Linked DNA regions of Homo sapiens: regions 1, 3 and 4 are each linked to region 2. Evidence: fine-mapped expression QTL. A gene starts in region 2. Each other region holds a variant in brackets. All regions are shown on one strand. Distances are from middle to middle. Region 1 has its middle 49 kb from the start of LINC01450. Region 2 holds the start of SUGCT (succinyl-CoA:glutarate-CoA transferase). Region 3 overlaps SUGCT (succinyl-CoA:glutarate-CoA transferase). Region 4 overlaps SUGCT (succinyl-CoA:glutarate-CoA transferase).

What was found. PIP is the estimated chance that this variant, and not a neighbour inherited with it, causes the effect. A credible set is the group of variants that fine-mapping cannot tell apart.
Region 1: its variant is the best candidate, but not a certain one, in a credible set for the expression of SUGCT in whole blood (INTERVAL, PIP 0.66).
Region 3: its variant is the best candidate, but not a certain one, in a credible set for the expression of SUGCT in skeletal muscle (GTEx, PIP 0.72).
Region 4: its variant is the best candidate, but not a certain one, in a credible set for the expression of SUGCT in adrenal gland (GTEx, PIP 0.79).

The regions. Positions count from the first base shown.
Region 1 is chr7:40,928,031-40,934,392 of GRCh38, reverse strand. It overlaps a transcript of SUGCT not described here. Among named protein-coding and RNA genes, the nearest start is that of LINC01450, 49 kb to the left of the region's middle. The variant A/G (reference allele first, on the strand shown) is at 3,675.
Region 2 is chr7:40,131,586-40,137,947 of GRCh38, reverse strand. SUGCT (succinyl-CoA:glutarate-CoA transferase) reads right to left here and starts at 2,943. Exons shown (of 14, transcript NM_001193313.2): 1 at 2,828-2,943. The coding sequence starts at 2,927. It overlaps MPLKIP (M-phase specific PLK1 interacting protein), which reads left to right and starts at 3,326. Exons shown (of 2, transcript NM_138701.4): 1 at 3,326-3,719; 2 at 4,689-6,362. The coding sequence starts at 3,381. The coding sequence ends at 4,889. RefSeq lists silencers at 2,871-3,070, 3,531-3,600 and an enhancer at 3,251-3,320.
Region 3 is chr7:40,582,272-40,588,633 of GRCh38, reverse strand. All of the region lies in intron 12 of SUGCT (succinyl-CoA:glutarate-CoA transferase), which reads right to left. The region is part of intron 3 of LOC105375244 (a long non-coding RNA gene); the gene reads left to right. Among named protein-coding and RNA genes, the nearest start is that of SUGCT-AS1, 38 kb to the right of the region's middle. The variant G/A (reference allele first, on the strand shown) is at 2,932.
Region 4 is chr7:40,747,929-40,754,290 of GRCh38, reverse strand. It overlaps SUGCT (succinyl-CoA:glutarate-CoA transferase), which reads right to left. Exons shown (of 14, transcript NM_001193313.2): 13 at 4,794-4,857. Among named protein-coding and RNA genes, the nearest start is that of SUGCT-AS1, 200 kb to the right of the region's middle. The variant T/C (reference allele first, on the strand shown) is at 3,633.

The DNA of each region.
Region 1 (6,362 bases), 800 kb before region 2:
CCCATGTAGCCTAACTGGGAGACACCTCCCAGTAGGGGCCGAAAGACACCTCATACAGGTAGGTGCCCCTCTGGGATGAAGCTTCCAGCAGAAGGATCAGGCAGCAATATTTGCTGTTCTGCAGCCTCTGCTGGTGATACCCAGGAAAACAGGGTCTGCAGTGGACCTCCAGCAAACTCCAACAGATCTGCAGCTGAGGGACCTGACTGTTAGAAGAAAAACTAACAAACGGAAAGGAATAGCATCAACATCAACAAAAAGGACATCCAATCCAAAACCCCATCTGTAGGTCACCAACAACAAAGACCAAAGGTAGATAAAACCACAAAGATGGGGAGAAACCAGAGCAGAAAAGCAGAAAATTCTAAAAAGCAAAGTGCCTCTTCTCCTCCAAAGGATCGCAGCTCCTGGCCAGCAATGGAACAAAGCTGGATGAAGAATGACTTTGATGAGTTGAGAGAAGTAGGCTTCGGAAGGTCGGTAATAACAAACTTCTCCGAGCTAAAGGAGCATGTTCTAACCCATCGCAAGGAAGCTAAAAACCTTGAAAAAAGGTTAGACGAATGGCTAACTACAATAAACAGTGTAGAGAAGACCTTAAATGACCTGATGGAGCTGAAAACCATGGCATAAGAACTTTGTGATGCATGCACGAGCTTCAGTAGCTGATTTGATCAAGTGGAAGAAAGGATATCAGTGACTGAAGATCTAATTAATGAAATAAAGCAAGAAGACAAGTTTAGACAAAGAAGAGTAAAAAGAAATGAACAAAGCCTCCAAGAAATATGGGATTATGTGAAAAGACCAAATCTACATTTAATTGGTATACCTGAAAGTGATGGGAAGAATGGAACCAAGTTGGAAAACACTCTTCAGGATATTATCCAGGAGAACTTCCCCAACCTAGCAAGGCAGGCCAACATTCAAATTCAGGAAATACAGAGAATGCCACAAAGATATTCCTTGAGAAGAGCAACCCCAAGACACATAACTGTCAGATTCACCAAGGTTGAAATGAAGGAAAAAATGTTAAGGGCAGCCAGAGAGAAAGGTCGAGTTACCCACAAAGGGAAGCCCATCAGACTAACAGCAGATCTCTCGGCAGAAACCCTACAAGCCAGAAGAGGGTGGGGACCAATATTCAATATCTTAAAGAAAAGAATTTTCAACCCAGAATTTCATATCCAGCGAAACTAGGCTTCCTAAGTGAAGGAGAAATAAAATCCTTTACAGACAAGCAAACGCTGAGAGATTGTTGCCACCACCAGGCCTGCCTTACAAGAGCTCCTGAAGGAAGCACTAAACATGGAAAGGAAAAATTGGTACCAGCCACTGTAAAAACATGCCAAATTGTAAAGACCATCGATGCTAGGAAGAAACTGCATCAATTAATGGGCAAAATAACCAGCGAACATCATAATGACAGGATCAAATTCACACATAACAATATTAACTTTAAATGTAAATGTGCTAAATGCCCCAATTAAAAGACGCAGACTGGCAAATTTGATAAAGAGTCAAAACCCATCAGTGTGCTGTATTGAGGAGACCCATCTCATGTGCAGAGACACACATAGGCTCAAAATAAAGGGAGGGAGGAAGATCTACCAAGCAAATGGAAAGCAAAAAAAAAAAAAAAAGCAGAGGTTGCAAACCTAGTCTCTGATAAAGCAGACTTGAAACCAACAAAGATCAAAAGAGACAAAGAAGGCCATTACATAATGGTAAAGGGATCAATGCAACAAGAAGAGCTAACTGTCCTAAATATATACACACCCAATATAGGAGCACCCAGATTCATAAAGCAAGTCCTTAGAGACCTACAAAGAGACTTAGACTCCCACACAATAATAATGGGAGACTTTAACACTCCACTGTCAGTATTAGACGGATCAATGAGACAGAAGGTTAACAAAGATATCCAGGACTTGAACTCAGCTCTGCACCAAGCGGACCTAATAGACAACTACAGAACTCTCCAACCAAAATCAATAGAACATACATTCGTCTCAGCACCGCACTGCACTTATTCCAAAATTGACCACATAGTTGGAAGTAAAGCACTCCTCAGCAAATGTAAAAGAACAAAAATCACAACAAACTGTCTCTCAGGCCACAGAGCAATCAAATTAGAACTCAGGATTAAGAAACTCACTCAAAACGACACAACTACATGGAAACTGAACAACCTGCTCCTGAATGACTACTGGGTAAATAACGAAATGAAGGCAGAAATAAAGATGTTCTTTGAAACCAGTGAGAACAAAGACACAATGTACCAGAATCTCTGAGACACATTTAAAGCAGCGTGTAGAGGGAAATTTATAGCACTAAATGTCCACAAGAGAAAGCAGGAAAGATCTAAAATTGACATCCTAACATTACAATGAAAAGAACTAGAGAAGCAAGAGCAAACACATTCAAAAGCTAGCAGAAGGCAAGAAACAACTAAGATCAGAACAGAACTGAAGGAGATAGAGACACAAAAAAACCCTTCAAAAAATCAATGAATCCAGGAGCTGGTTTTTTGAAAAGATCAACAAAATTGATAGACTGCTAGCAAGACTAATAAGGAATAAAAGAGAGAAGAATCAAATAGATGCAATAAAAAATGATAAAGCAGATATCACCACTGATCCCACAGAAATACAAACCACCATCAGAGAATACTATAAAGACCTCTATGCAAATAAACTAGAAAATCTAGAAGAAATGGATAAATTCCTGGACATGTACACCCTCCCAAGACTAAACCAGGAAGAAGTTGAATCTCTGAATAGACCAATAACAGGCTGTGAAATTGAGGCAATAATTAATAGCCTATCAACCAAAAAAAGTCCAGGACCAGACAGATTTACAGCCGAATTCTAGCAAAACTACAAAGAGGAGATGGTACCATTCCTTCTGAAACTATTCCAATCAATAGAAAAAGAGGGAATCCTTCCTAACTCATTTTATGAGGCCAGCATCATCCTGATACCAAAGCCGGGCAGAGATACAACAAAAAAAGAGAATTTTAGACCAATATCTCTGATGAACATTGATGTGAAAATCCTCAATAAAATACTGGCAAACTGAATCCAGCAGCACATCAAAAAGCTTATCCACCACAATCAAGTCAGTTTTATCCCTGGGATGCAAGGCTGGTTCAACATATGTAAATCAATAAATGTAATCCATCATATAAACAGAACCAATGATAATAACCACATGATTATCTTAATAGATGCAGAAAAGGCCTTTGACAAAATTCAACTGCCCTTCATGCTAAAAACTCTCAATAAAGTAGGTATGGATGGAATGTATCTCAAAACAATAAGAGCTATTTATGACAAACCCACAGCCAGTATCATACTGAATGGCCAAAAACTGGAAGCATTCCCTTTGAAAACTGGCACAAGACAGGGATGCCCTCTCTCACCACTCCTATTCAACAGAGTGTTGGAAGTTCTGGCCTGGGTAATCAGGCAAGAGAAAGAAATAAAGTGCATTCATTTAGGAAAAGAGGAAGTCAAATCGTCCCTGTTTGCAAGTGACATGATTGTATATTTAGAAAACTCCATCATCTCAGCCCAAAATCTCCTTAAGCTGATAAGCAACTTCAGCAAAGTCTCAGGATACAAAATCAATGTGCAAAAATCACAGGCATTCCTATACACCAATAACAGACAAAC[A/G]GAGAGCCAAATCATGAGTGAGCTCCCATTCACAATTGCTTCAAAGAGAATAAAATATCTAGGAATCCAACTTACAAGGGATGTGAAGGACCTCTTCAAGGAGAACTACAAACCACTGCTCAACAAAATAAAAGAGGACACAAACAAATGGAAGAACACTCCATGCTCATGGATAGGAAGAATCAATATCATGGAAATGGCCATACTGCCCAAGGTAATTTATAGATTCAATGCCATCCCCATCAAGCTACCAATGACTTTCTTCACAGAATTGGAAAAAACTACTTTAAAGTTCATATAGAACCAAAAAAGAGCCTGCATAGCCAAGACAATCCTAAGCAAAAACAACAAAGCTGGAGGCATCACGCTACTTAACTTCAAACAATACTATAAGGCTACAGTAACCAAAACAGCATGGTACTGGTATCAAAACAGATATACAGACCAATGGAACAGAACAGAGGCCTCAGAAATAACACCACTCATCTACAACTGTCTGTTCTTTGACAAACCTGACAAAAACAAGAAATGGGGAAAGGATTCCCTATTTAATAAATGGTGCTGGGAAAACTGGCTAGCCATATGTAGAAAGCTGAAACTGGTACCCTTCTTTACACCTTATACAAAAATTAATTCAAGATGGATTAAAGACTTAAATGTTAGACCTAAAACCATAAAAACACTAGAAGAAAACCTAGGCAATACCATTCAGGACATAGGCATGGGCAAGGACTTCATGACTAAAACACCAAAAGCAATGGCAACAAAAGCCAAAATTGACAAATGGGATCTAATTAAACTAAAGAGCTTCTGCACAGCAAAAGAAACTACCATCAGAGTGAATAGGCAACCTACAGAATGGGAGAAAATTTTTGCAATCTACCCATCTGACAAAGGGCTAATATCCAGAATCTACAAAGAACTTAAACAAATTTACAAGAAAAAACAAACAACCTCATCAAAAAGTGGGTGAAGGATATGAACAGACAGTTCTCAAAAGAAGACATTTATGCAGCCAAGAGACACATGAAAAAATGCTCATCATCACTGGTCATGAGAGAAATGCAAATCAGAACCACAGTGAGATACCATCTCACACCAGTTAGAATGGCAATCATTAAAAAGTCAGGAAACAGATGCTGGAAAGGGTGTGGAGAAATAGTGACACTTTTACACTGTTGGTGGGAGTGTAAATTAGTTCTACCATTGTGGAAGACAGTGAGGCGATTCCTCAAGGATCTAGAACTAGAAATACCATTTGACCCAGCGATCCCATTACTGGGTATATACCCAAAGGGTTATAAATCATGCTTCTATAAAGACACATGCACACGTGTGTTTATTGCGGCATTATTCACAACAGCAAAGACTTGGAACCAACCCAAGTGCCTATCAATGATAGACTGGATTAAGAAAATGTGGCACATATACACCATGGAATACTATGGAGCCATAAAAAAGAATGAGTTCATGTCCCTTGCAGAGACATGGATGAAGCTGGAAACCATCATTCTCAGCAAACTATCACAAGGACAGAAAACCAAACACCGCATGTTCTCACTCATAGGTGGGAATTGAACAATGAGAACAGGGTGGGTAACATCACACACCGGGGCCTGTCAGGGGGTGGCGGGCTGGGGGAAGGATAGCATTAAGAGAAATACCTAACGTAAATGACAAGTTGATGGGTGCAGAAAACCAACATGGCACATGTATACCTATGTAACAAACTTGCACATTGTGCACATGTACCCTAGAACTTAAAGTACAATTTTAGATAGGAAGAAAGAAAGAAAAAGAAAAAGGAAAAAGTAGAGTTTTGCCGGGCAGGGTGGCTCATGCCTGTAATCCCAGCACTTTGGGAGGCCAAGGTGGGCGGAGCACAAGGTCAAGAGATCAAGACCATCCTGGCCAACATGGTGAAATCCCAGTCTCTACTGAAAATACAAAAATTAGCTGGTCATGGTGGTGCGTGCCTGTAGTCCCAGCTATTCAGGAGGCTGAGGCAGGAGAATTGCTTGAACCTAGGAGGCAGAGGTTGTAGTGAGCCGAGATCACGCCACTGCACTCCAGCCTGGGAGATGGAGCAAGACTCCGTCTCAAAAAAAAAAAAAATTAGAGTTTTACTGTCCTCAAAGAAACAAATGCTGGGATACTTTACATTAAAAATGTGAAACAAAAACTGAAAGAACAAAGCAATTGCAAATATAGAATAATCATTTAAAAATATTATAAATGGAAAAATACATTTATCGAAATAAAAAGAAACAATAGAAAAATCACCTCCAGATATGATGGTATAAAAGTGAAAGTTAATTAAGTGAAAGATAGTATTCAGGAATTTGCCAAAAATAAAGCAAAAAAAGGAAAAGATGTTTTAAAAACTGAAACTAGTGAAGAGATAAGCTAAATAGATTGAGAAGTTCCAACATATGTCTAATAGAAGTTCTTGTAAAAGAAATGGAGTGGATGTTGAAAAAGAAACATTTGAATATTTTTCATAATTGAAGAAATCCATAGGTTTTTATAGGGAAAATGTACTCTGAGTACTGAGGAAGTTAAATAAAATTAAGGAGAAATGGGTGGGAAAAAAAATAAAAATAATTAATTTAATTAAACCAACAGCTAGGCATATCTTTGGGAAATTTTAGGAAAAAATAAATAATATAAAGAAAAGAGAGATTACTT
Region 2 (6,362 bases):
CACTTTGAGAGGCCCAGGTGGCTGGATTCTGTGAGCTGAGGAGTTCAAGACCAGTGTGGGCAACATGGCAAAACCCCATGTCTTCAAAAAATACAAAAATTAGCCAGGCATGGTGGCACACACTTCTGGTTTCAGCTACTTGGGAGGCTGAGGTGGAAGGATTGCTTGAGCCCAGAGAGGCAGAGGTTGCAGTGAACTGGGATTGCGCCACTGCACTCCAGCCTGGATGAAAGAGCAAGACATGTCTCAATACTTAAATAAATAAAAAATATATAGAGAGAGTATACTGCTATACGACAGAAAAACACAACTCAAACTTTTTTATTGGTCACTTTTATCTTGCTACAAAATGTACTACTAGAAGCTTAAAAAGAGCATGGCTTTTGAATTTTAATAAATTTTAGTGAACTTTAGTTAGATTGAAGTTATACAGATAAATGGGTTGATGGAATAAAGATCTATATACTCATTAGGCGTCCATCAGTTAAACTGTTTACTATTAAATTAATTTGTTGGTTGGGCATGGTGGCTCACCACACCATTTAATTGCAGAGTTTTGGGAGGCCAAGGCAGGAGAGAGGAATGCTTGAGGTGGGGAGTTCTGGGAAACACAGCAAGACCCTGTCTCTACAAAAAATAAAGAAATAAAAAAATTAGCCAGGCATGGTAGCATGAGCCTGTACTCCCAGCTACTTGGGAGACTGACGTGGGAAGATCACTTGAGCCCAGGAGGTCGAGGATGCAGTGATCTGTGATCTCACCACCGCACTCCAGCCTCGGTGACAGAGTGAGACCACCCCATGTCCATAATAATAATAATAAAGTTAATTTTGGTCCCCACCACTCTCACTTTTCTGCCCCCTCCCCTGAGTAGACTGGCTGATGATCTAAAAGGTGAAAATTACCTATGTGATGTATGTGAACCTTTTTTTTTTCCAGTGGGGTGGGGGGGCATGATAGGGTCTCGCTCTGTTACCCAGGCTGGAGTGCAGTGGCACAATAGCGGATCACTGCAGCTTCAACCTCCTAGGACTCAAGCCATCCCACCTCAGCCTCCCAAGCAACTGGGACTACAGGCGCACGCCACCAAGCCCGGCTAATTTTTTTTGTATTTTTGGTAGAAATGGGGCTTCACGATGTTGCCCAGGCTGGTCTTCAACTCCTGGGCTCAAGCAATCGTCCCACCTAGGTCATTTTATTCAATAAATATTCAAATGAGCAATTCCCAAGCATTAAGTTAAACACTAAAGACAATGTCCAGAAAGGTGAATTTTTGGCCAGGACAGAACTACTGTATTTAATAAAGTGGATAGGCTGGAGTCCTCCGACCTTAATTGTATCACTAAGCCTTAATGGCAACGTGCTACCTTGATTAAGTCTATCACTTGTATCTACAGAAGAAACGAAATGTAGTGAATTGAATTTCCACAGAATAAACAAACAAAAAAACTGTCTGTGTGTGTCTCCATTCATCAAGGAGGATAGAAGCTGAGAAGATACCACACTCGTCAGCTTGGGATGTCACAGAACATGTCAAAGAGACAGCGAGGAGTAGCAGCTACAAGAGGGTGAATGGAAATCACAGGTCCAGGCTACCCGTTAGGCTATGATTTAATGAGTCCTAAAGCTCTTTTAAGATTCTGTATCCTACGCCAGGCGCGGTGGCTCACGCATGAAATCCCAGCACTTCGGGAGGCAGAGGCAGGCGGATCACTTGAGCCCAGGAATTTGAGACCAGCCTGGCCAACATGGTGAAACCCGTCTTTACTAAAAATACAAAAAAATTAGCCGGGCATGTGGCACATGCCTGTAATCTCGGCTACTCTAGAAAGCTGAGGCAAGAGAATCGCTTGAACCCGCGAGGCAGAGGTTGTGGTGAACCAAGATCGCGCCACTGCACTCCAGCCTGGGCGACAGAGCGAGACTGTCTCAAAAAAAAAAAAAAAAATCCTGCATCCTGCAACTAATTTCAAGATTCATAGTGGGCCGCGCGCATAATCATAGAGATTACGTCTGTAATCTCAACACTTTGGGAGGCCGAGGCGGGAGGATAACTTGAGGTCAGGAATTCGAGACCAGCCTGGCCAATATGGCGAAACCCCGTCTCTACTAAAAATACAAAAATTAGTTGGGCGTGGTGGCGCATGCCTATAATCCCAGCTACTCGGAAGGCTGAAGCAGGAAAATCTCCTGAACACGGGAGGAGGAGGTTGCAGTGAGCCGAGATCGCGCCACTGCAGTCCAGCCTGGGCGAGACAGCGAGACTCCGTCTCAAAAAAAAGAGAAAAAAAGAAAAAAGGAAAAAAAAGATTCATAGTGGATTACCATTCCCAAATTCAGAGGGAGTAAAGAAAGTTCTATAACACTGTAGTAAAGCTAAATTTCATCCTCTAAATAAAATTCTGCAACAGGTAACTGTACAAGGGCATCTTTTATTGTACATGAAGTGTCAAGTTATTCAAAGCAGCGGGCTAAAGTCCTTTCTGAAATGTGGCTTGGTGTGCATTTTCGAAGTTACTTAAACTTGGCGGACGAAAGGACAGGAGTAAAGAGGCCCCAAACGCGAGCCGCGGGACGCGCAGGAGCGGGACCCCACGGCGCACGGAGCCCTCGGTCACAACAACGCACGGGACAGAGGCGACCCTGGGCGGCCAGAGCGGGGCAGGCCGGCCGCAGGCCCACGGAACGGGGTTGCAGGGAGGCGAGCAAAGCCACCGCTAAGGGGTCAGCAGAGACTTCAGACCCTAATTGCTCTCCTCAGGGCGCCCGAGGAGGCAAGCTGGGGCAGGGATCCCTTTAGCCACCCAGACCGAATCTCGGAGGGTACCTGACTGCGGGCGGCCAGTCCACAGCCCCCTCCCGCCGCCCCGGCCGGAGAAGAGGCAGGTTCTGCGCAGAGCTGCCACCCTCGCCAGCGTCGCCAGCATCGCGTGCGTCTCAGATGGCATCGGTCCCGGTGCAAGCGGCGAACTCCGTGCGGCGCCACCCGCCGCCACTGGGGGGCGCCCACGGACGCCGCAGACCCCGCCCCCGCCGGGCGGGGCTGAGCACTAGTCGCCTGCTGGGCCAGCTTCTAGTCTGTCGGTCAGACCAAGGGCACTCAGACTGGAAAGGTTGTTGCTGGGCTTGGGTGTCCGTCCTTTCCTGTCTCCTTTTCTTCCTCTTTTCACTTAAATCCACTGAGTCTCTCGCCAAGTCAGTGATTTAGGTAATCCCGCCGCCCCTGGCGGAACCTTTGTGACGCCGGAACTGATGTGCCGTAGGGTGGCTGCGGTCGGAGGACTGTTTTGGTAAAGGACTAGCAGTTCTCTGCGGAGGGCCGGTTGATACAGTTCCGGTGGGAGAACGCGGCTGCGAGGTTTTCGGCTTTGGCTCCTGATATGCAGCGACAGAATTTTCGGCCCCCAACTCCTCCTTACCCTGGTCCGGGTGGAGGAGGTTGGGGTAGCGGAAGCAGCTTCCGGGGAACCCCGGGCGGGGGCGGACCACGGCCGCCCTCCCCTCGAGACGGGTACGGGAGTCCGCACCACACGCCGCCGTACGGGCCCCGGTCTAGGCCGTACGGGAGCAGTCACTCTCCGCGACACGGCGGCAGCTTCCCGGGGGGCCGGTTCGGGTCTCCGTCCCCTGGCGGCTACCCTGGCTCCTACTCCAGGTCCCCCGCGGGGTCCCAGCAGCAATTCGGCTACTCCCCAGGGCAGCAGCAGACCCACCCCCAGGTAATAATAATAGCCAGCGTTTGCCGAGCTCTTACTTTATGGCAGGCACGGTACTAATATTCCCTTTACGTGGATTATTTTGTCTAATCCTCTCTGAGGTACTATTGTTAGCCCAATTTTGCAGATGAGCGAACTGAGGCTTAGAGAAGTTGAGTGACTTCCGGAAGATTATCCGAAAGAGTGGCAGAGCCGTACGTTCTGTTTTCGAGCCCTCGTGCTTTTAACCAATACACTGCCACCCGTACACAGATTTTCCTAATTCTCCATTTCCTCCTGTTTGCCAAAGGCCTTGCCAGTTTGTTTCAAGAAATAGTTCTTTTTCTTTTTTTTTTTTTTTTTTTTATCTTTCTTTCGAGCTACACTGGCTTCTGCTCCAACTTCCCTGAAAAGAAAATCGGTGGTAGTGGAAGTTTTCCATTCCTTTAGTGAGAGTAAATACAAAAGACAGAGAGAGTATCTCTAGCATGTCTGGGATTTCTGTGGTTTACAACTTGCAACTACGTGGTTTTCCAACTTGCTGTATTCTACACCAACCCCCTACCCCTTTTGAGCCTGGAGCTAAGGAGTAAAGAAAATGTTCATGAGCTAGAAAGGTTCTAGAAACTTTAAAACTATAGTATTGTTTTCTCCTGAAAAAAGTGAAAATTTCGAGGGAAAATTGAATATAATTACTTGATTTCATCACTGCTTGTATTTAATTACTGCAAAGTTACTACATTAGACACAAAAGTATTTGAGATGACAGTGGTCATGGAATTATAAATAAATGAGAATAACGAATTGCTTTAAGTACTTTTTTTAAAAAATAGGAACACTTGATTAAAGGAAGCATGGACTTTGTAATTGAACATTATTTAGGTTCAAGTCACAACTTTTAAGCAGCAATGTGATTCCCGCTAACCTTTAGCTAAAGGAAGAAGTACCAATTATCTTTACTAAGTGTTTTTTTAACTGATTTTTTTTCTAAAGGGTTCTCCAAGGACATCTACACCATTTGGATCAGGGCGTGTTAGAGAAAAAAGAATGTCTAATGAGTTGGAAAATTATTTCAAGCCTTCAATGCTTGAAGATCCTTGGGCTGGCCTAGAACCAGTATCTGTAGTGGATATAAGCCAACAATACAGCAATACTCAAACATTCACAGGCAAAAAAGGAAGATACTTTTGTTAACATTTCTGAAATTCAACTGGAAGCTTCATGTGTCAGGAACATCTTGGACAAAACTTTAAGTTGTGTTGATATAAATTTACCCAAAGATGATGACTTTGATTGGATAATTAGTAAGGTCTTTTTGTTATTTTTCATCGTATCAGGTATTGTTGATATTAGAGAAAAAAGTAGGATAACTTGCAACATTTAGCTCTGGAAGTACCTACCACATTTTAGAGATTTACCGTTTCCATATATTTAACATTCCTGGTTACATAATGGACATTTGTCTTTTAATGTTTTTTCAATGTTTTAAAATAAAACATTTTGTCTTCTAGCTATTGTGGTTTTGTGGTATGATAAAGAAGTAGACTTACTACAGTAATGCTTTGTAGTCACTTAGAGTTCATAGGTAAATGTTTTGCAAATTATTTTTGAAAATGAAATAGGTAAACCATCCTTTGAGCTGTAGACAGCTCTGTATTTGTTCGTAAATAATGAGGATGAGAATAACAGAGTTCTGTTCATACTCATTTTATCTAATGCTTCTGTTAAAATGCATTAAAACTTGAAGCCCCAGAAACCCATTTAAGCATAACTTTATACTCATTTAACTGGAAAAGGCAAGAATAGACCATGCATTGCTAAATCAAAGTGTTCTATCTGAATTTCTCTATACCTCTTAGCATTATGGAGTTAGTTTCTCTTGAGGCCAAAGAAGATAGCTACCAGCAGCCTCAAATCACTTCCATTGCAAAAAGAACATCTCTCATCTCCATCAATCCAAGAGAAGACAAATTTGCCATACTTAGATCATGTTTCTGTATTATTGAACCAATTAACTGTGGCCAAGGCCACAGTGAGACCTAATTAACTTGAATCATGGACACATCACCATAATGAGACAGGATTCTGTGACCTTGAACACCACTGGGCCTACCTGGAGTAGAGAAGTGGTTTTCCAAATTAAGGGATGCTATGGATATATACCTATAGTTCTGGAGAGAAAAATATGGAAGAATTGTTACCCCAACTATTTTTTAAAAATCAAGTGGTTTTTTGTTTGTTTTTTGAGATGGAGTCTGTTGCCCAAGCTGGAGTGCAGTGGTGCAATCTTGGCTCACTGCAACCTTCGGCTCCTGAGTAGCTGGGACTACAGGCACATGTCACCATGCCTGGCTAATTTTTGTATTTTTAGTAGAGACCATGTTTTGTTTTTTTTGTTTGTTTTGTTTTGTTTTTGAAATAGGGTCTCACTCTGTTGCCCACGCTGGAGTGCAGTGGCGCAATCTTGGCTCACTGCAACGTCCGCCTCCCAGGTTCATACGAGTCTCCCGCCTCGACCTCCTGAGTAGCTGGGAATACAGGCACGCGCCTGGCTCATTTTTGTATTTTGAATAGAGATGGGGTTTCACCGTGTTGGCCAGGCTGGTCTCGATTGAACTCCTGGTCTCAAGTGATCCCCTACCTTGGCTTCCCAAAGTGCTGGGATTT
Region 3 (6,362 bases), 450 kb before region 2:
AAATGAAATGCTTAAATCATAATCATTAATTAATATTGTTTATAGTTCTTTATTAAGATTAATCACTCTTGAAACCTAAAACTCTAATCGTTAGAAATGTGACCATGGGAAAGTTAGAATTCTGTATGTCACCTCTTCAATTATAAAACACAGATAACCCCTTACCTCCTGTAGATAATGGACCAGGAGAGTTAATACTTTGAGGTCCTCTCTGCCTAAAAATTATACTAATCTATAGTTTTATGAATACATAACAAAACTAGTGAACACAGAGTGATATAAGACCTTCAGGAAGTTTATTTCGCATGCAGCGCACCAGCATGGCACATGTATACATATGTAACTAACCTGCACAATGTGCACATGTACCCTAAAACTTAAAAGTATAATTAAAAAAAAAAAAAGAGAATTTTCTTAGAAATACAAAAGGAGGGCTGGGCGCAGTGACTCACACCTGTAATCTCAGCACTTTGGGAGGCCGAGGCGGGCAGATCACTTGAGGTCAGGAGTTTGAGACCAGCCTGGCCAATTGGTGAAACCCTGTCTCTACTAAAAATACAAAAATTAGCCGGGCATGGTGGCACACGCCTGTAATTCCAGCTACTCAGAAGGCTGAGGCAGGAGAATCGCCTGAGCCTGGGAGGCGGAGGTTGCCATGAGCTGTGATTGCACCACTGCACTCCAGTTTAGGCGGCAGAGTGAGACTCTGTCTGGAAAAAAAAAAAAAAAACAGAAAGAAAGAAGAAAAAGAAATATAAAAGGAGGATATAAATATATCTGTTTAAAAGATATCCATTTTACTGTTGTCTCATACAAGTGATTTATATAAGTGAAATATGAGTGAAAATGAAAATTCCATTATGTATTGAAAAATTTTAAAGCAAGCTTTAAAAGGATTGATGATTTCATATGGTAGCTATTTTCATTTAAACACAATAAAAGGAAAATGGGATAAGTCATATGACATCTTACCAATCATGTTAATTAAAACATCACTTCCTCTTTCACCTCCAACTGCTTTGCCATGGCAATGACAAATAAACACTAAATTGAATAAACATTTAATGTGTCAACTCATGTTAAATGCAAATTTAACTGCTTTAGGTACACACACACATCACTTTTATGAATTTTTAATTTCTACATCATTTTTCTATTATATGTGTTGTATATATTTATATATCTATCATAAATATGAAGACATGTTTAGACACAAGAATTTTAGAATTATTTATTTTTCAAAATAGCCTGGTTACAATAACTTAACATATTGAGAAAATAAACTTGGATCTACTTGTAAGTCTGTCTTTGTTTATCATTCAACTTTACTGATGTGCAATTTATATACAGTAAAATTCACCCCTTTTTGTTCACAGTTCTCTGAGTTTTGACAAATGTATAGTCATGTAACCACTACTACCATCAAGATACACACTATTTTCATCATGTCCCCCAAAAAATCTGTTGTGTCTCTTTATAGTTAATCCCTGCCTTTCACTGCCAGCTCCTGGCAACTCCTGAGCCTGTTTTCTGTCTCTATAATTTTGCCATTTCTAGAACGTCATACAAATGGAATATACAGTATATAGCTCTTCACCTCTGGCTTCTTTCACTTAGCATAATACATTTGTGATTCATCCATGTTGTTACATATATCTGTAGTTCTGTTACTTTTCAAATTTGTAAGTGGTATTCCATTGATTGGATGTATTCCATTATTTGTTTACTCATTTACCAGTTAAAAGACATTTAGGCTATTTCCTACTTGTAAGTCTTTCTAAACATGGCAGATCATAAGGCAGCACAGTATTGTGGTTAAAAGCTTAGGTTTTTGAGCTAGACAGATATGAGTTCCAATCTCAGGTCCAATATCAACTTGTACCTTTGAGCAAATTACTTATATTCTTCGAGTTAGAGTATTGTTGTGAAGATTAAACTAGTATGTGGCCTGTAAATTGGTAAGTGTCTGCTGTTATTATTACTACTGTCCCTAGTGCTCAAACTCTGCTCTACTTCCAGTCTTGAAACTAATCCCAAATTTAACACTGTCAATCACCTCAGAGCTTTTACTATATTCCTTACTTAAAACACCTCACCCCTTCTCTCTGCTTCCCTTCTGCAAGACCCAAGTTCCTCTTCCTCCAGGAGGACTTCTCTAACTCACAGTTCACATTTAGATTGCCATTCTGCACATTCTTAGAGCATGCATCATCCAGTCTGGCAGCCACTACTTACATGTGGCTTTATACATTTAAATTAATTACAGTTAAATAAAATTTAAATCCAGTTCCTCAGTCACAGAAGCCACACTTCAAGTGCTCAAGCAAAACGGCTAGTGGCTGCCATATTGGGCAATGAGGATATAGAATATTTTAATCATCATAGTGATTTCCATTTTAAGTTCTAAGTTAAAAACATTGCCTAACACTTAAAACTATATAATTCTATATAGAACAGGAAAAACTAATAATTAGCAGACATCGACTGAGCTCCTATTCTGTGCAAGACATTCTACCTTAAGCAATGATACAGCATCTTTTAGGGGATCTTGAACCACCTGGACAATTATATTAAAAAAATTTAAAAGAAGAAATGATTACCAAGGTCTGGCAGGTAAAAGAAAAAAAATAATAAGTCATTGAAATTTAGAAGTTGGCCAGGCACAGTGGCTCTCACCTGTAACCCTAGCACATTGGAGGCCAAGACAGATGGATTGCTTGAGCCCAGGAGTTCAAGACCAGCCTGGGCAACGTGACAAAACCCTCATCTCTACAAAAAATACAAAAATCAGCCAGGTGTGGTGGTGCACACCTGTAATCCCAGGTACTTGAGAGGCTGAGGTAAGAGAATCACCAGAACCTGGGAGGTCGGGACCACAGTGAGATATAATCACACCAATACACTCTAGCCGGGGTGCCAGAGTGAGATCCC[G/A]TCTCAAAAAACAAAACAAAAAAGTTTAGAGGCATGTGTGGTGGCTCACGCCTGAAATCCCAACACTTTAGGAGGCCAAGTGGGGTAAGATGGGTTGAGCCTAAGAGTTCAACACCAGCCAGGGAAACATATCAAGATCTCGCCTCTACAAAAAATAAAGTAATTGTCAGGGAGGCTGAAGCAGGAGGATCCACTTTGTCAAAAGATCTACAGAATCACAAAACGATGTTCTTCCTAGATTTGTCTCAAGCTAAAGGTGTCTCAAGGAAAAAGTAAGCTTTTAAAGTCCAAACCTTGAATGAGAAAATAATTGTGTTTTCAGAGAAGAAGGCAAAACAAAGACGACAACAACGAAACCTGACTGCTGGAAGACTCATTTCAGAATATACCTTAAAAAGCCACTATATGTCTCATGAATCAATCCAGATACTATATCACCCACCCCTCTGGCACAAGGTTATGACTCACTGTCTGAAACCACAATGCTTATAGAATCCTCAAACGTTCAAGGATAACTACATTTGGTTCAAGTCAGCAATAGAAAGGGAGCTCATTAAGAATTCCCCATTTTCCCCACTACAGTCCCTTACCATTAGAATCCACCTACAACTGCCAGAGCTGATGGGATCATTCCAATTTCATCTTCTCAAGGAGGATTCTGAGAACTATTGAAGGGTGAGTTTAAAGGTGAATCATCAAAGCCAGTTTAAATGTTTTGAAAAGATTAAGGCATGAAATTATCATTTACAATGCACTTGCCTTAGAAGATCCTGGTTTTCTACTTTTCCATTTACACAAGAATGTCAGGAGATCCTCCTGAGAGGAAGCAGAATGTTAAGATACCCTGGGAAGTCAGAGTCATTACTATCACTCCCAAGGCAGCTATAATGGCAGGAGAAAAGTATCCAGTGTAAATAGTTCGCCACAGTGGAGCCTTATGTTACTGTATATACAACATGGGATTTGGAACAATATCCATATGCCAATCCCAGCTCTATCACCATCTAGCTCTATCACCTCATTTAATTCCTTAGTTTCTCCTGTCATCAGTTTATTCATCTGTAAACTGGGGTAACACTGTCCTTAATTACTTTGATGGAGTGTTGTGATGGTCAAATGAGATAATGGCTGGGAAAACACTTTGCAATCTGTAGATCACTATGCACATGGGAACTATTATCTGGTCTTTTCCCCTAAAACACTGCTCCTTGGAGTTCACTTAGCCTGGGATTTTCCAACTTCACTTCTAAAAGAACATTTTTGGAGCTACTCAAATGAAGACTTAGACAAAATATGAGTATCTGTTTTCTGCTTTTTTTCTGATCCAAGGAACTTTCTTCCTTTCACAGATTTAGCTCTTTATGTCATTAACTAAATTTAAATCATGCCTAAAGACTTACTTGTTTGGCAGCACAGTTTCATATCCTGTTTGGTTTGATTTTTAAAATTCTTTTGTAAAGCACTCCAAGATGTTTGCATGAAGATCACTCAACAAATGGAAGCCTCTCTCGAATAATACACACACAAGGACACACCCACATCAATGAGAAGAAACATAATACAGACTTTTGTTAACTTGATAAAACAAGTGCTCAAAAAACAATTCCTAAAATTACATTCGACGCCACACTGTATGACCTTTTCTTGACTGAGAGAGCCTTAACCCTGAACTGACTTGGAAAGCTAAGGTAATCTGGTAGAATTCAACTCCACCAACTTATATAGAGAGATGTAAGTGTATGCTTCAACATAGACACAATATTTTCCATGAAGCAGGCATCCTGGCAAGTAAAAATTCCCTCGTGTTTCAGCATGTATCGAGAGACTAACCATCAGATCCTGAACTGGGTTACATAAGCACAATACCCTTATTGTTAGCAGCTGTGTATTGGTCAGCATTGCACAACTGACCAGGTGCATGGCAGGATGGAGTTTTGTCTTTATCCAAAGATTCAGAGTAGATGGGCTCAGGACTTGCTCTATGATGGCAATATATTAATTCCAAGCCATCAGGATTATTATAACCCATAAGATACTTTGCCAATTTATGCATATGTGGTAAAAATTAAGGCATGTAGTAGATGCCAAAAGAGCCATTGGTTTAATGTGGAAACCTTCTTTTCAATTCTGAATGTTTAAGAATTCATTTTAAATGTAATTGTCTGGATGTGAAGGTAAAATAATTGACTCAATGACACTAAATATCATCATACAATTCCAGGGAAGACATATTTAAACTACCAACGGAAAGGATATGTGATTTTCAATGATCACTTTAGGATAAAGGTATAACACTAAAAGTATTCATTAGAAAAGCCAAGGAAAGATCAATCCATACAGGAAAGAAGAGTTTCTAAAATTGAAAAAAAAAATTGAAAAATCTATCTCCCTCTATACTCAAGAAAAAACTTCAATCACTTGAAATTAACAATGAAGATTCTGACTTTTATATTGCCTTATGACAGGATTTCAAAGGCTGTTTTCTCACCTTTGCTCTTTACTTGAGTTTAAATACTTTAAAGTATATTTTCCTTTACGGATGTACCACCCCATTCAATTCATTTGTTGATTTCAAAATGAAATCAACTAGCTTCCAATACCAGCTAGTTGTTATTTAAGGGTACTGTGTTGCAAGGCAAATTATTGAGCTGCTAGTTTTTGTGTTCTGTATTTTCACAGTCAGTTTTTGCTATTACGCTGATTTAATTTTTAAGAAATGTTTACTTATACATAAAACACAACTGATCCAAAATTGCTTATGAAAATAAATGACAATATTTAGGATATACTAATAATACCAGCATTACTATTATAGAAAATGCCCTGTATTGACATTATTAAACCACTTTTCTAAACTTTTTGGATACAGAGCTAATATATACTGACTATGTGCTCTGTGACGGCCATGGAGTTAAGGGCCCACCCAATGAGGAAGCTACGAAGAGTTTCCTTAATGTATAGATGAGGAAGTTGAAGCAAAGTCATTAGAGAAAGCTGAAGTTATCGACGCCAGAGCACTTGCTCTGCACCAGCAACCTAATGATGAGGATGTTTGAAGCTGCAATTAACAGAGGATGAGGAGGACTTCTGCTCCAGCATACGAAGAAAGGAACTCCATTTCCAAGTTTGGGCCACAAGCTTACCTTCAGTACAGGTAAAAATAGTGTCTACAAATAGAAGATTATCAAATACCCAAATTATGAATTATGTTTATGGGACTTTTATTAATGAAAAATATTCAACTCAAGACCCTGTGCCTCAATTATAATAGTGTAGTGGCAAAATATTGACTCATTTCAGTTCTGCCTGTGAAATAATAATGGAATTCAAATATCTCATTGTTGAGAGACACTAAAACCAGTACACAATTTGTTAATATGCCCTCAGTTAGGAAATCACGTACAGATTATACCAACAAAATATGCACTTCA
Region 4 (6,362 bases), 620 kb before region 2:
GAACACCAGAATGTTAGAGTCTGGCAAAGAGTCACATAATACCTGTTCTCACTTATACACCCATTGATAGTTCATTTTTCTTTGTCTCTCTTCACTTTTAACTGTATAATAGGCTTTAAAGTTCAGATGAGGGAGTACTTTAATGAATAATATACTAAATAAAGAACAATAGCATTAGCATAACTAAAACTCACACTTAGAGATAATTCATGGGCTTAACTAGTTTGCATGTTTTAACCAGATCATCTGTAAACACAAATTACATTTCTTTCCTAACTCTTTATTATAGTTTGAAGATGATAGAGACTCATATGAAAGGGAGTATTTGCAACAGATATAATAAAGGAAATAGTTTAGATGATACTACTTATTGTATTTTAATAATGGTAATGATTACAAAGATTGAAACAATGTACTAAATGGCTGAAATAATTATTTTCTTTAAGTAGCCAAAAGGGATTTTTAAGAGGTAAATAATTTCCTATCCTTGTCCAAAGTATATTAAACACGAGTTGACCAGTATCTTTAATGTATTAATCAATAAGCTCTCATCTGAAGGAATGCTATGTGGATTTATACAACTCTAAAGAAGGCTCTATAAATATCACATGATTTACTGCTGTTTTTAAGAGACAAGTTTCTGGTAATGACTAAGAAAGTGCTTCAGGCAAATTAGTGTGACATACAGAAAATTCAGTACTGGTTGCAAGAAGTTCATAAATAAGGCAGGAAATATAAATAAGTAGAATAATTTGGAATGGTAATAAGCTGGTAATGCTAATAATGCTAATAACAATCCTAATAAGGATTGTTACTGTAAACGTGAAGATGTGGATATGTATGTGTAAATCTATAGAACTATGTCTAGCAAATTCAAAATGTGTCTCCACTAGTTAACCAGAAAACAGTGTAGCAAAAGTCACCTTTAACTGTAGCTTGTGTTTCTTGTTTTGGCAGACTTACCATATTGAGACATTCTGAGGAAACTGAGTTATGTCTATAGCATTTATGAGTTCTCCAATGGGAACATCCCCAACAAAGAAAGGCAGAACTATCATAGGTAAATAAAATCAAGGACAGGTAGAATCCACAGACAAATTGTAAATTATATTACTGATACATTCCCTTTGCATTTAACAACTCTTGTCCTGTTTATGTGGCCTCTTATTGGGATATACTGAATTAGGAGATACAATAGCCTCTTTTTATCTGACATCTGTAAGCAGAATTGTCATTCCCCTCTCATGAGGAATTCAGATGTGCTGCACTCAAAACACACTCAGATTCTAATTCCAAACATTAACTAGACTCATGCATTTCATCTCAAATCTGGGAATTCCCATATTGATAATTCTATAGAAAGAATACAAGATAACAAGATAGACATACCAAAAAGATGACTAAGCCCTATAAACACTAAACAAAAATAGAATTTTCCAAAGGGAGATTAAAACAAAAAAAGGAGAAAGAAATTGCTGTGGATCTGAGAACTCTGTTGTAGTCAAGTGAATTTTTTACTCCAATTATTTACTTCTCCCTGTGCCCATGCTCCTCACCATATAACTTTGAAATTTCTCTCAGAAAGGGTCACATGTATTTCCCCACCCTTTTGGATACAGCCTAAAACTTGCTTTTGCCCGGGCACAGTGGCTGACATCTGTAATCCCAGCACTTTGGGAGGCCGAGGCAGGTGGATCACCCGAGGTCAGGAGTTTGAGACCAGCCTGGCCAACATGGTGAAATCCCGTCTCTACTAAATATACAGAAATTAGTTGGGTGTGGTGGTACGTCCCTGTAATCCCAGCTACTCAGGAGGCTGAGGCAGGGGAATTGCTTAAACCTGGGAGGTGGAGGTTGCAGTGAGCTGAGATTGCGTCACTGCACTTCAGCCTGGGCGACAGAGTGAGACTCTGTCTCAAAATAAATTAATTTAAAAAATAAAATTTGCTTGGACTAATAAGATGCAGGCATAAGGGTTTGCCAGCTGTACACCAACATCTTACATAGCACTGTGGTTTCTGCTTGCCCCAGTGTTCTGCAGCCATGACCGTCAGAAGAGTAGGAGAGACACACGGATTAGAAATGACTCCAAGCACAGGCAGGAGCTAAACCTGGCCAGACCTGGAACTAGAAGCAAAGCTACCCAGCTGAGCCCAAACTATATGAAACATCCCAGCTAATCCACATGCATGGGATAAACAAATGCTTATGTTTGAAAACCATTAAGAGCTTGAGGTTATTTCTTACACAGCATTCTTGTGACAATGGCTACCTGATACATTGATAAATTAAAGTGGGCAAAAGAAATATTCTTCCCTTCTAGTAATCTGTAAATAATACTTCCCTCCTGCTGAGATTTAGCTTTCGTTCACTTACAGTGAAAGTCAGCAAATTACGCCTGACTGAAAGAGTGTTACCTCCAATGAGTTCATTCTTGGTTGGCCACTGACTTACTTTTTTCCTCATTATCATGCTGACAATCATATTGACTTTCAAATGCTTACCCTTTCTCTAATGTGTTGGGGATACCAACCCCTGTATGACCTCATCTGTAAACTTGTGGGGTTAAGTGATCACTGGTTCTTCAGGGCCCAGACTTCCAAGGAGAGATGTGTGGAAGACCACAGCATGGTGGGCAGAGGAGGAAAGCTAAACAATAGGAGTGCTAACCTATCAATCAGCCTAACTCTGCTTCCATCTGTGTTAGCTACGGATTCTTCATGTGGAAAATCAGTTTTACTGTATAAATATCAAAAACTACTAGACCAGATGTTTTCTAAAGATCTAATACTCAAAGACTTATGATTACATTTTTTATTTTAACCACCCCTTCTTTTTATTTCTATTCCCATGACCCTAATTTAAGACACTATCACCTAAACTCCTGTATCACTTCCTAACCTGACCGCCGGCTTTAAGCTGTAAATTGTGTGATTTTATTCCCCTACTTAAAACGAGAGAAAACACAACTTTAACAGGGCCCCCAGGCTCTCCCTACCTCTCCAGTCTCATTTCCTGCCCCACTTCCCCACCTTTCATCCTGGCTTAGAACACACCCCACACTTCATCACCTCGGGGTTTTCTCCCATGCTGTTCCCTCTGCTGGAAATGCTCATCCTCTATTCGTTTTGCCCCTCAGTGTCATGTTATAAGTCTGCCTCTCAGAGAGACTTTCTTCGATCACCTAAACTACAGAAGGCCCCATCTGACCCCATCATTCTCTATGACAGCACATTCTTCTTTCTTTCTTTGCACTTATGACTTACAGTTATAGAAACATTTGTTGGTTGTTATATCATTCAACTTTCTATTAAGTATCAGTTCCAGGTGGCCAGGGGTGAAGTTGTCTGGTTTATTTTTGTATTTTTAGGACCCAAAGCAGTACCTGGCACATAGTATATACTCAGTAATACAGATGAGTGGATGAACTGATGAACTTCTTAGCTTTTGTCAACATTTTTTTCTACCACTTTTCTATACCATATAACATTTCCCTAGAACATGTGATCTCAGTTTTTCATTTGCTTATACCTGCTCTCTTAGTTACCTTCCTTAATCCATGCATAATATTCCTTATGTTCTTGAACATTAGAATTTTCTCTTCAACTTTCTTTATTCATCATACTTCCCTC[T/C]TCTTACTCTTTTCATGCGCGAGTGGTCACTATCTGGTAGGTTATGGGAGATTATTATAAAGCTGATCCCAAATCTTAGATTCTATTTAGGATAAAATTAACAAGAATAGTCCTTCAATAAATGAGATCAGATGCCTGTAGAAGTAAATACTCTATGCCACCTGACTGAGGTGACTGAAGAGTTTGGCAGATACCTAAATTCCAAGTAAGATGGCCAGGAAACGGTTTTAGGAAAAAACAATAACAAAAATTATATCCTAGCTAATTTCACTGACCTCCATCAGAAGAAAAGAAAAAAAAATAAGTGCTTGGTTTGTGTTTAGTCTAGAAAATATGGACACAATGAACAAATAATTTGGAACTCCATTGCTGGAATGTGGATTTTCCAGCGATGCCTGGAATAGAGAAAAAACATATCTGATAAAGGTAATATTGTGATTATCAGAGAAATGGAGGCTGTGGGAGGGAAATGTATTGGTCACAAGCTCTCACTGCAGTTTAAATGCACCACTTAAGAGGATGCTTTGAGAGTAGGCATGAGGCTACTGGCTGCTGAAATAAGAGCTCCCTCTGCAAGTAAAGAAGCTGGCATTTCGGCTTAGGCAGCAGTCTCTGGTGAGCTGGTTTAGTATGAATCAACTTCCAAAAATTCAATCTATTCTGGGTGTACTGAAAACATTTAGTTTCTTGTTCTGTAAAGCCAAGATCCACACCTTAAACCACGGTTCTGAAAGAAAATGCCCGAGCCTGAGCAGTCAGTAGCCTTCCTCGGACTCCAGTTACATCTTGCCTGGCTTTCTTTCCAATTCTCATATGAACGACACTCTATTTCTTGTTATTGGCCATACCTATTACTATCAACCTGTTGATAATTACATGATGTACTTTTGTGAGCACGTGATTACACAAAATGGAATTAAGAAATGCGAGCATTTTTTTGTCATCGTGGCAATCCGACACTCCTTAGAGCTAAGACACAATGCCATAGTCTCAGCATACATTTTTGTGAGTGCAGTCCTAGGATTCCCCTTTTACCCAATGTTATAAATTTGGATAATGTCTTGGAAAGTTGTTTGGGAGCTCATAAGCTACCTGTAGTAAACAGCATATGGGACAATTAATAAAGAAAGGTGCTAGAGAAAATACCAAAACTTTTCAGACCTGGGACGGAAATCTTCCCCACAGTTGGATGCTCCATCTCCATAACGAGGCCATTGTGTAATACCTGAAAAGGCAAAAACAGAGAGAAAAATAATTTACAAAATAAAACCATCTTCAATTGCAAGGCATGGACAGCCATCTATTCAGTCGACATCAAAGAAAGATATGGCAAAACACAGAAGTGTTTAACATTTTCATTTGAAAGTAAACATTTGACATAAAAATAACGTTTCATCCTATAATACACCAAATGAAGCCAAAAAAGACTAGAGGATTCACGGACTAGAAAACATTTCAATAAGACCTTCCCACTCTTAAAATTTTTATTTGCTCCTAAATATAGCAGATGATTTCCTCTCTTTCATTTATGGATGCTCCCCTAATATTAAAGCTCAGCCTTTTCCTGCATAACCTTATGGCAGGACTCGGCCAAGGTCAAGAAATAGGACCTCAAACAGAGCAGCACACTGGGGTGGTACACATGCTCCTGGAAATCTGTTCAGCAGAAGGTATGGGGAGTCAGTCCAGTTTGAAGAATAAATCAGAGTATCCAGAAGGCTCGGTGACTGCTGGAGGTGGAAGGATTCAGGGCTGCTGTGACAAGCAAATAAGCAGCTGACAGCAAATCCAGAGGAGACCCAGGTCAGAAGCAAGCACAGGGAAGCTGAACCAGGAACATTTTCAATGGTGGCCAAGACCTTAAGCATAAGACTAGAGTTCAGAAACAGGATTCCAGGATACTGGAGTAAAAAAGCCAGAGACTTCATCCCAGAGGGCTGATTAGGTTCTCATGCAATGGTGAGGCAGGAAATTTAAAAAATAATAATAAAATAAAATAAATTTTTCTATATTAAATTAATTTATTTCAAAGACAACAATAAGTATATTTTTATAAATTCTTATTCTCTATAACTAATAACTTCAAATATTCTATTTTCTCTAAAAATACAACAAAAATCATAAAAAAACTAAACAAACCTAAAACTACAACTATTAAACACCATAATAAAAATTATAAAATAAACCAATACAAAACTCTTTAAAACAAAACCTAAATAATAAACATCTAAATTAGTTAAAAACAATCATATACAATCATAAATTATAAACCTATTACAATTTAATTAACTATCTTTATCCTGCTTCTAGATCCCTACTTTCACGCCACTATAAACTTACTTCAAACTAACCCACCCCCTTTTATAAAATATACATAAAAATCAAATACTATCTTTATTCTAAACCCAATCTTTAAACATTAAATCTACTAAATCTAAATACACTCAGTAATAAAAATACCCTCCTACATACACCCCAAAGTCTCTCTCTAATCCTCCTAATCCCACAACAATGGGACCGAGATAGGTATCTAGTGTCCCACCAAGAACACAAGGTAGCTTTGGCTTGGATTTAAAATCTAAGGCCAGTTACTAGTGCAGGGACATTCTACCAGTGCCTGACAAGAGAAATGTGACTTGATGCTGAATCACTTGAGTACTGAAATGAAGCAACTTAAATCCCTGGCAAACGAAGGCTGGAATTTTCCCTGGGGGTAAGCAAAAAGACAAA